Linked DNA regions of Homo sapiens. The protein of the gene in region 1 purifies or fractionates together with the protein of each later gene. This does not show direct contact. Each region holds a gene or a part of one and is shown in the gene's direction. Other genes may lie near its edges.

Region 1 (3,655 bases):
TAAAACTGGTTCGACTCAACCCAAATTTAATTGGGAATTTGTTTCTATCTAGTTATAATGAAGAGTTGATTTAGAACTATCTCACTACTCATGTTTTCTATTTCTCACCCTTCCAGAGGCATTGACCCCGCAATATTTTAAGAGATTTGAGAATATTTTGATCAGGGATATAATATCATGGCTGTGTCTTTTTAATCAGCACAAATATAGACCTAATTTTTGAGAACATTAGTATTACCAAAATAACTTTATGATGCAAAAAATGCATTTAGGGAAAGACACCATTTGTTTGGGAAACTGAAAATTAAAGGCATGCGCATTGAAAATGTATTAATTCAAAACCTTGTGGTTTCATGAACTATTTAGCAAATTAAGTGCTGTATTTAAATGTTTAAAAAATATAAGTGACCCTCCTGAAAGTTGTTTAATTTTAATAGAATAAGAAAGAAATAGTTTCAGAACTTGATCTACTATTGTAACTAAACTGTATGTAATATCCTATTAATATTAGTGTATGTTTTATCTCTCTTTTTAAAAATATAGCAGTGTCATAGAATAATGACTTCTTGAGAGACACTAAGTGACACATGGACACAGTGTTACATATAAAATTAGAAATGTTAATTAAAACATTAATTTAAAAATATGCCTTGATAGCTTTATCTAGCACACTGCATTCTTTTTGAGAAATGACAGTGAAATTAAATGAATCAGATATTCATTAATTATATTCTGTCTGTGGTTTGCTGTTAGATTTTGAAATATGTTGAAAAATTACTTCAAGCAAATACTATCAAGAGTTCAAATTTACCTGAAACAGGACCTATTGTGAAAAAAGAAAAGAGGGAAAATGGGCCAATATTTATGAGAATTTAATGTACACTTGGCACTATGTGAGAAACTTTGAAAAAGAAAGCTATTTTTCATTGTTATCTTAACATCTACCTTGAAACTGAAGTATTATCACATTTTAACAACCTGAGAAAGATGAAATTTATGAAAATCACAAAATTGCTTTGTGGGAAGGCAGGATTTGAAGTATATCAAATTTTACTATCAGGTACTACGTCTACCTGATGGTAAAGACTACACTCTTTTTACTTAATTCCTGTGGTTTCTAAAATACAATCAATAATCTTTTAACAAGTTTCATAAATTCATTTTTTCAGCTATTTGTTTCTTGAATTTTAAAAATATTATAACATTGGAATATAAACAACTGTCCCCATCATGGGGATAGAATTTGAAACAATAGTCTGTTAAAGTTCCATCAGTTTTGAAGCAGAGCAAGAGATAAGCTACTTATCTTGAGCAGGATGATCTCAAAATGACTTCCTTTCTTATTCTTAAATATAAATCTAATACATGTAAAAAGAAAAAAAAAGTTTGTTTTTATGAACAAAGTTCAAGATTATAATTTTTTAGAAATACTCATGAGCTTATAATTTATAAATAAAAAGTTATCATGCTAACCTTTTGACCATCTGTAAGCTGGTAATAAAATGTCTTTATTAAAAAAAAGGTCATGCTAGGCCATGTTAGGTTTATACTACATCTTATCAATGTTATGTAAAATTTCTAGACAAGTGTATTTGTTTTAGTTTTCCCTGAAATTTTAATTTTCCAATTATTTTAATGTCCCTTGGTATTTGAGAGGAGCTCTCATTCATGCATCCCAAAAGACATCGATTAGCTGAATTTGTCATGATATTTACTAAACATATATATGCATTTGCGCTGACAGGATTGTGTCCAAAACCTATTGACATTGAGGTTGAAGGAATACTTTCTTTGAATATATGTACTACCATTACAAAAGTTATCACTAAAATCTTATCCATTCAGTAGATATTTGTTGAATATTAGTAAATGAATAATTGAATCAATAGATGAATGGCACATGCGTAAGCTTTTCATTTTTGTTGCATTTCCTGGCAAAGCTCCCTCTGTCTAGAATAACTTCTACCTTTTTGTTTCTGTAAAAATATTCTGCAGGCACTAAAGCCTAGTTAGTGCCTAGTTAGTGCCTAGTTTGTGCCTAGTTAAATCCAATATGACCGTATCCTTGAAAGTTTCCTTCATTTCTCCAGATGTCCCAAGTATAAATACAAGCAAAGAGCTTGTTATATTCTGTCTTGCAGGCTGGCAAAGATCTGTCTCCAGATCTAGACAGTAAACTTTTTAAAGAAAACCGGAGGATTTTCAAAACTGTGTGAGTTTGTAACTGAATTAGAGTGCCATAAATACTATGCTTCATAATTGACATAATTAATGTATTTTATACTTTCATAATATTGTACTTGGCTAAACTTTTAGCATATTTTTATATAATGATGCCAATTGTGATAATGTTGCACTTATACAATATATTGAGTACCATATTATTTCTTATGTTACAAAAATAATTTACCCACCATTATTCAATAAACTTAACTTTCAGTCAGCTACTTACTCTATAATGCTCATTTTTATAGGATTTATATAACCAGTTATTAATGTGTTTCAGTTTAAGTGGTACTGTGCCAGAATTCTTAAAGGAGGGCTTTTGTTCCATTACACTATGAGAGGAGTAGTTAGAGTTGAAAGAGGACAGATACAAGTGTTTCTCAGGAATGCTTACTGAACTAAAGAAAGCCAGAGACTTCTTTGGAGTGATATTTGGAAAGTAAGTTGAGAGTGCATTTCAAAGACTTGACAATACATGATGTTCCATTGTGGGTGGCATGAGGGATTTGTTTTAAATTATTTTCATTCTACTTCATTGACAATAGAGTTTTTACAAATCAGATTATGAAAAGTGTTCAGATACTCTGCCACATTTTTAATGCATTTCATCTCTAAATGATAGTGGAGAAGTAACACAATTTGCATACCGGGATCATAGTTCATAACACATTGTAATTTTTATTTTCACAGAATTAGTATAATAGTGCTGACTATGTGCTTTTTGAATAGATGAGTGAAATAAATGAATGCATAGATGATTGAATTGGTCTGTCATCAGCTGCTATGCTCAACCTCTTTAACACACTGTTCATTCAAGTAGCTGATCATACACCAATATGAATCTCCAAAAACACAATGGAGGGATGAGAGGACAGGCATAGTGTACATGGAGTGAAGAACAGAGAATCTATCATGATTTATGTACAATCATCTCCATCATTTATGACAGCATGAGTTTCTTTTTATGTAAAGATCCCTTTCATTCTAAGGTAAAGTGAAGCTGCATGCCCTGAATCACACTGAGGTCACACTTTAAATGAATGCTCTTTTGTGGTAGTTGCAGTTTGACAAGCAGAGTTGGGTCTTCTTTAATTTTATCTAGAGCCCAATATGTACAGGAATATAATATATATGTGTATACAACATACATATAAGTATATATGTGTAAACACACAAACATATATGTAATAACAGTAAATAACAAGTAATAAAGAGTGGGAGACTGCTTGAGTGTGAGACACAAATTATTATCAAATAGTATAGAGTAACCCATAAAGGACCACAGTATTTGTTTTTGAATATGTCAGTGTCCCTATAAAATGGTTAGATTTGCAATGAATGACTTGGAAGATCATCTTATTTAAAAGTATGTTTGTAAGTAGGCCCCCTAAATCTTTCTATATGATCATGCAGTCATACATCAAATACG
Region 2 (3,655 bases), on another chromosome or scaffold:
TCATGAGATCCGTTTATCCTAAGCTCTGTTTGGGTTTGATTTTCCCTGTCTCTTTTCTAGCCCAGAATGCCATCGCCGGGGAAGGAATGGGAATCAGTCATGAGCTAATCACCCTGGAGATCAGCTCCCGAGATGTCCCGGATCTGACTCTAATAGACCTTCCTGGCATAACCAGAGTGGCTGTGGGCAATCAGCCTGCTGACATTGGGTATAAGGTCAGACTTCAGACCCATTCTGACCTTGGCCGTGGCGTGGGGATGGGGGAGTGGAGGGGTGGGAGGAGAAAGAGGGTACTGTATTAGAGTAACCGTGAGTCCAGAGCTGAGTTTTGGAGTTAGTATTTGGAGGTGTGAGTGGGGAATTTAGAGAGCCCGTTGGTCACAGTCTGTTCTGTCAAGTTGAATGGAAGCTTCTTTGGAGAAAGTGAGGCCAGTGGGCACAGTTGGAAATGTGTTCTGTGTATTTGTTTTATGTTTTATGCAATGACTTGTTTTTGGTTATATACATTTTGCAGCATATCTAAAGTGCTGTGTATTAGGAAGGGGTCTTATGTGGGAAGAGAGCATTAAAAATAAGTATAATGGGCCACACACAGTGGCTCAGTCCTATAATCCCAGCACTTTGGGAGGCTGAGGCAGGAGGATTCCTTGAGCCCAAGAGTTTGACAGAAACCTGAGCAACATAGTGAGACCCCCTTCTCTATAAAAGAAAGGTTAAAAAATTAGCCAGGTATGGTGGCGTGCACCTGTCAGCTACTAGGAGGATTGCTTGAACCAGGGAGGCTGTGATGAGCCGTGATTGTGCCACTGCACTCCAGCCTGGGCAACAGAGCAAGAATCTGTCTCAAAACAAAAAACAAAACAAAACAAGCAAGAAAGAAATAGGTATAATGATATTTTAGTATCAGTGAATCTCACTTTACAGATTAAAGATTTAGGGGTGAAGTGGGGTTTTTTGGCCACCATTTTTCATTGTGACCATCAGATCTGAGGTCTTAGGGGTTAATTATCTGAAACTTCATGGTTTTCCCTGAGCCTATAGCTCTGCTTCTGCCACAGATAATTTATTTTCTCATAATTCCAGCTTGGTACCTCCAGGGTTGTGTTTGTGGGTTCATTTCTCCAAAGTTACTTCTTTTGGGGGAAATACCCCTGGGACTCTTAGGGCCTAAAGCAAGTGCAAGGTCAGGACTTGTCTCACCTCTCACTTGCCTTTGCCATACTCACGAGTCACCTCCTCTCATTTCCTTACAGATCAAGACACTCATCAAGAAGTACATCCAGAGGCAGGAGACAATCAGCCTGGTGGTGGTCCCCAGTAATGTGGACATCGCCACCACAGAGGCTCTCAGCATGGCCCAGGAGGTGGACCCCGAGGGAGACAGGACCATCGGTGAGAGTGGGGGAGCCCCACTGTGCTCAGTGAGAATGGGGGAGCCCGCCTGTGCTCGGTGAGAATGGGGGAGCCCACCTGTGCTCGGTGAGAATGGGGGAGCCCGCCTGTGCTCGGTGAGAATGGGGGAGCCCGCCTGTGCTCGGTGGTCTGCCAGTGGGCAAGCGTCCCTCCAGTCTCCATGGGCTTTGCTCAGTGGGGACCTGCCTCCACTAAGACCTGCTAAGGGAGCAGGTTTGGTGCCCACCAAGGCCAAGTGAAATGAGCTGCTTTTGACTCTCACTGGCTAGGTTGCCTTGTAAGCCTTATCTACTTGCTCAGAAAGGCACAGTGGGCTCGGAAGCAGGTCAAACTCAGGAGGCACATGGTACTCATTAAGAATGCATTTGAGATGGGATGTCCATAACTCAAGGGATAAACAAAACGTGGCGTGTTCTACAGTGGACCCGGGTGAAGGAGCTTGGGGAGAGCCACATGCTGTTCTGGGAGGCATCCCTGCCTTCACGCGGCTTGTCGTGGAGTTCTTTTCTGGAGCGGGGCTCCACTGCCCCCATGGTTCTGCAGGGGCTATGGCCTGTCCTCAAGCAAGGATGGGAGGAAACCCTGGGAGGCCGGGGGCGTGAGCAGTTGTTCGTTCACCTCTGCCTCGTGACTGAGCACGTTCTCTCCCCAAATACATCTGGCTCGCAGGAATCTTGACGAAGCCTGATCTGGTGGACAAAGGAACTGAAGACAAGGTTGTGGACGTGGTGCGGAACCTCGTGTTCCACCTGAAGAAGGGTTACATGATTGTCAAGTGCCGGGGCCAGCAGGAGATCCAGGACCAGCTGAGCCTGTCCGAAGCCCTGCAGAGAGAGAAGATCTTCTTTGAGAACCACCCATATTTCAGGTGCGCTTGCCTGGGTTTCATCATGGATCAGTCCAAGCCCAGGATGTCAGGCCTTCCAGGGGACAGTGGCAGCCGTCCCACAGATGTGTGGAGTGTGTGTGTGTGTGTGTGCGTGTGTGTGTGTGCGCGTGTGTGTGTGACTATGCTTGTTCCCCAACAAGGACTATGGAATTCACCTAGAAGAATAGGAAGGGGATTACAAAATACTGCCAAGAAAAAAAAAACTAAAAACCAATCAAAATAGGGAGAGAACAATGTACAATAATTTACGTAGCATGGTGCTGGAACCATATTTTATAAAAACATAAATAGAAGAGAATAGGAAAAAAGTAGAAAGCCCAGAAATAGACCTAGATATATATATTTGACACATGATAAATGCAGCATTTCAAATCAAATAGTGGACTATATCAGCTTGAGTATCTATTAGTGGTGTTAGGATAATTAATATTTGGGAAAAAACTAAAATACTGCCCTTACTTATCTCATTATACCAAAATAGTTAAAGTTTAAAGTTAAATATTAAGAGGAAGCAATAAGCATCTCAGAAGAAAGGTAGGTGAATAGTTTATAAGATTTTTCTATCCCTCCTACCAAAAGTGACATTTTTTAAAAGGAAAAGACTGACAAATTGGTAAGATTTAAAATGATGAGACTATGTAGAGTTGTAAACATTCTTACATTCAGTTCTCCCAGAAGCCTACAGAGAGCCATTACTCAGAATTCCAGGAATATCAAATGGAAACTTACATCCTGTTCTGCACATTCACAATTGCCAGAAGATGAGATGATTCAGTGTCCATTGATGGATGGATGCAGAAAGCAATGTGGTCTGTACAAAAACATGGAATACTTTCAGCCTTAGAAAGGAAAGACATTCTGACACATGCTACAACATGGATGAAGCTTGGGAACATTCTACTAAGTGAAAGAACCCAGTCGTAAGAGGACGGATACTGTCTGATTCCACTTAGCTGAGGTCCCTGGAGTAGTCAGATTCATAGAGACAGAAAGAATGATGGGCACCAGGGGCTGGGAGAGAGAGAATGGGCAGGTAGTGTTTAATGGGGCCATTGTTTCAGTTTGGGAATATGAAAAGTTCTGAAGACAGACAGTGGTGATGGTTGCATAATAGTGTGAATGTACTTAATGCCACTCAAGTGTACTCTTAAAGATGGTTAAATGGTCAATTTTATATGTAGTTTACCACAATTTAGAAAAATTGACAGAGAAACTGAAGCTTAGGTATGAGTATACTCACAAAAAGGCACAGAAACTCATGCTTCACTGCTGCCTTTATCCTAAAATGTCCTATAAAATGTGGGAAACCCTGTAATAACTCACTCTGTGAGCACAAATTTGGATCGAGTGAGA

The links. Proteins that work in one complex are often made in the same cells at the same time.
Region 2: the proteins of TRPC4 (region 1) and MX1 purify together in Homo sapiens (co-immunoprecipitation; one study listed by IntAct). This does not show direct contact.

What each region holds. Positions count from the first base shown.
Region 1 is NC_000013.11:37,863,177-37,866,831, reverse strand, and holds part of TRPC4 (short transient receptor potential channel 4), read left to right. Parts: intron 1-3,655. UniProt on the Homo sapiens protein: Forms a receptor-activated non-selective calcium permeant cation channel. Acts as a cell-cell contact-dependent endothelial calcium entry channel.
Region 2 is NC_000021.9:41,439,634-41,443,288, forward strand, and holds part of MX1 (interferon-induced GTP-binding protein Mx1), read left to right. Parts: intron 1-60; coding exon 61-215; intron 216-1,253; coding exon 1,254-1,392; intron 1,393-2,082; coding exon 2,083-2,281; intron 2,282-3,655.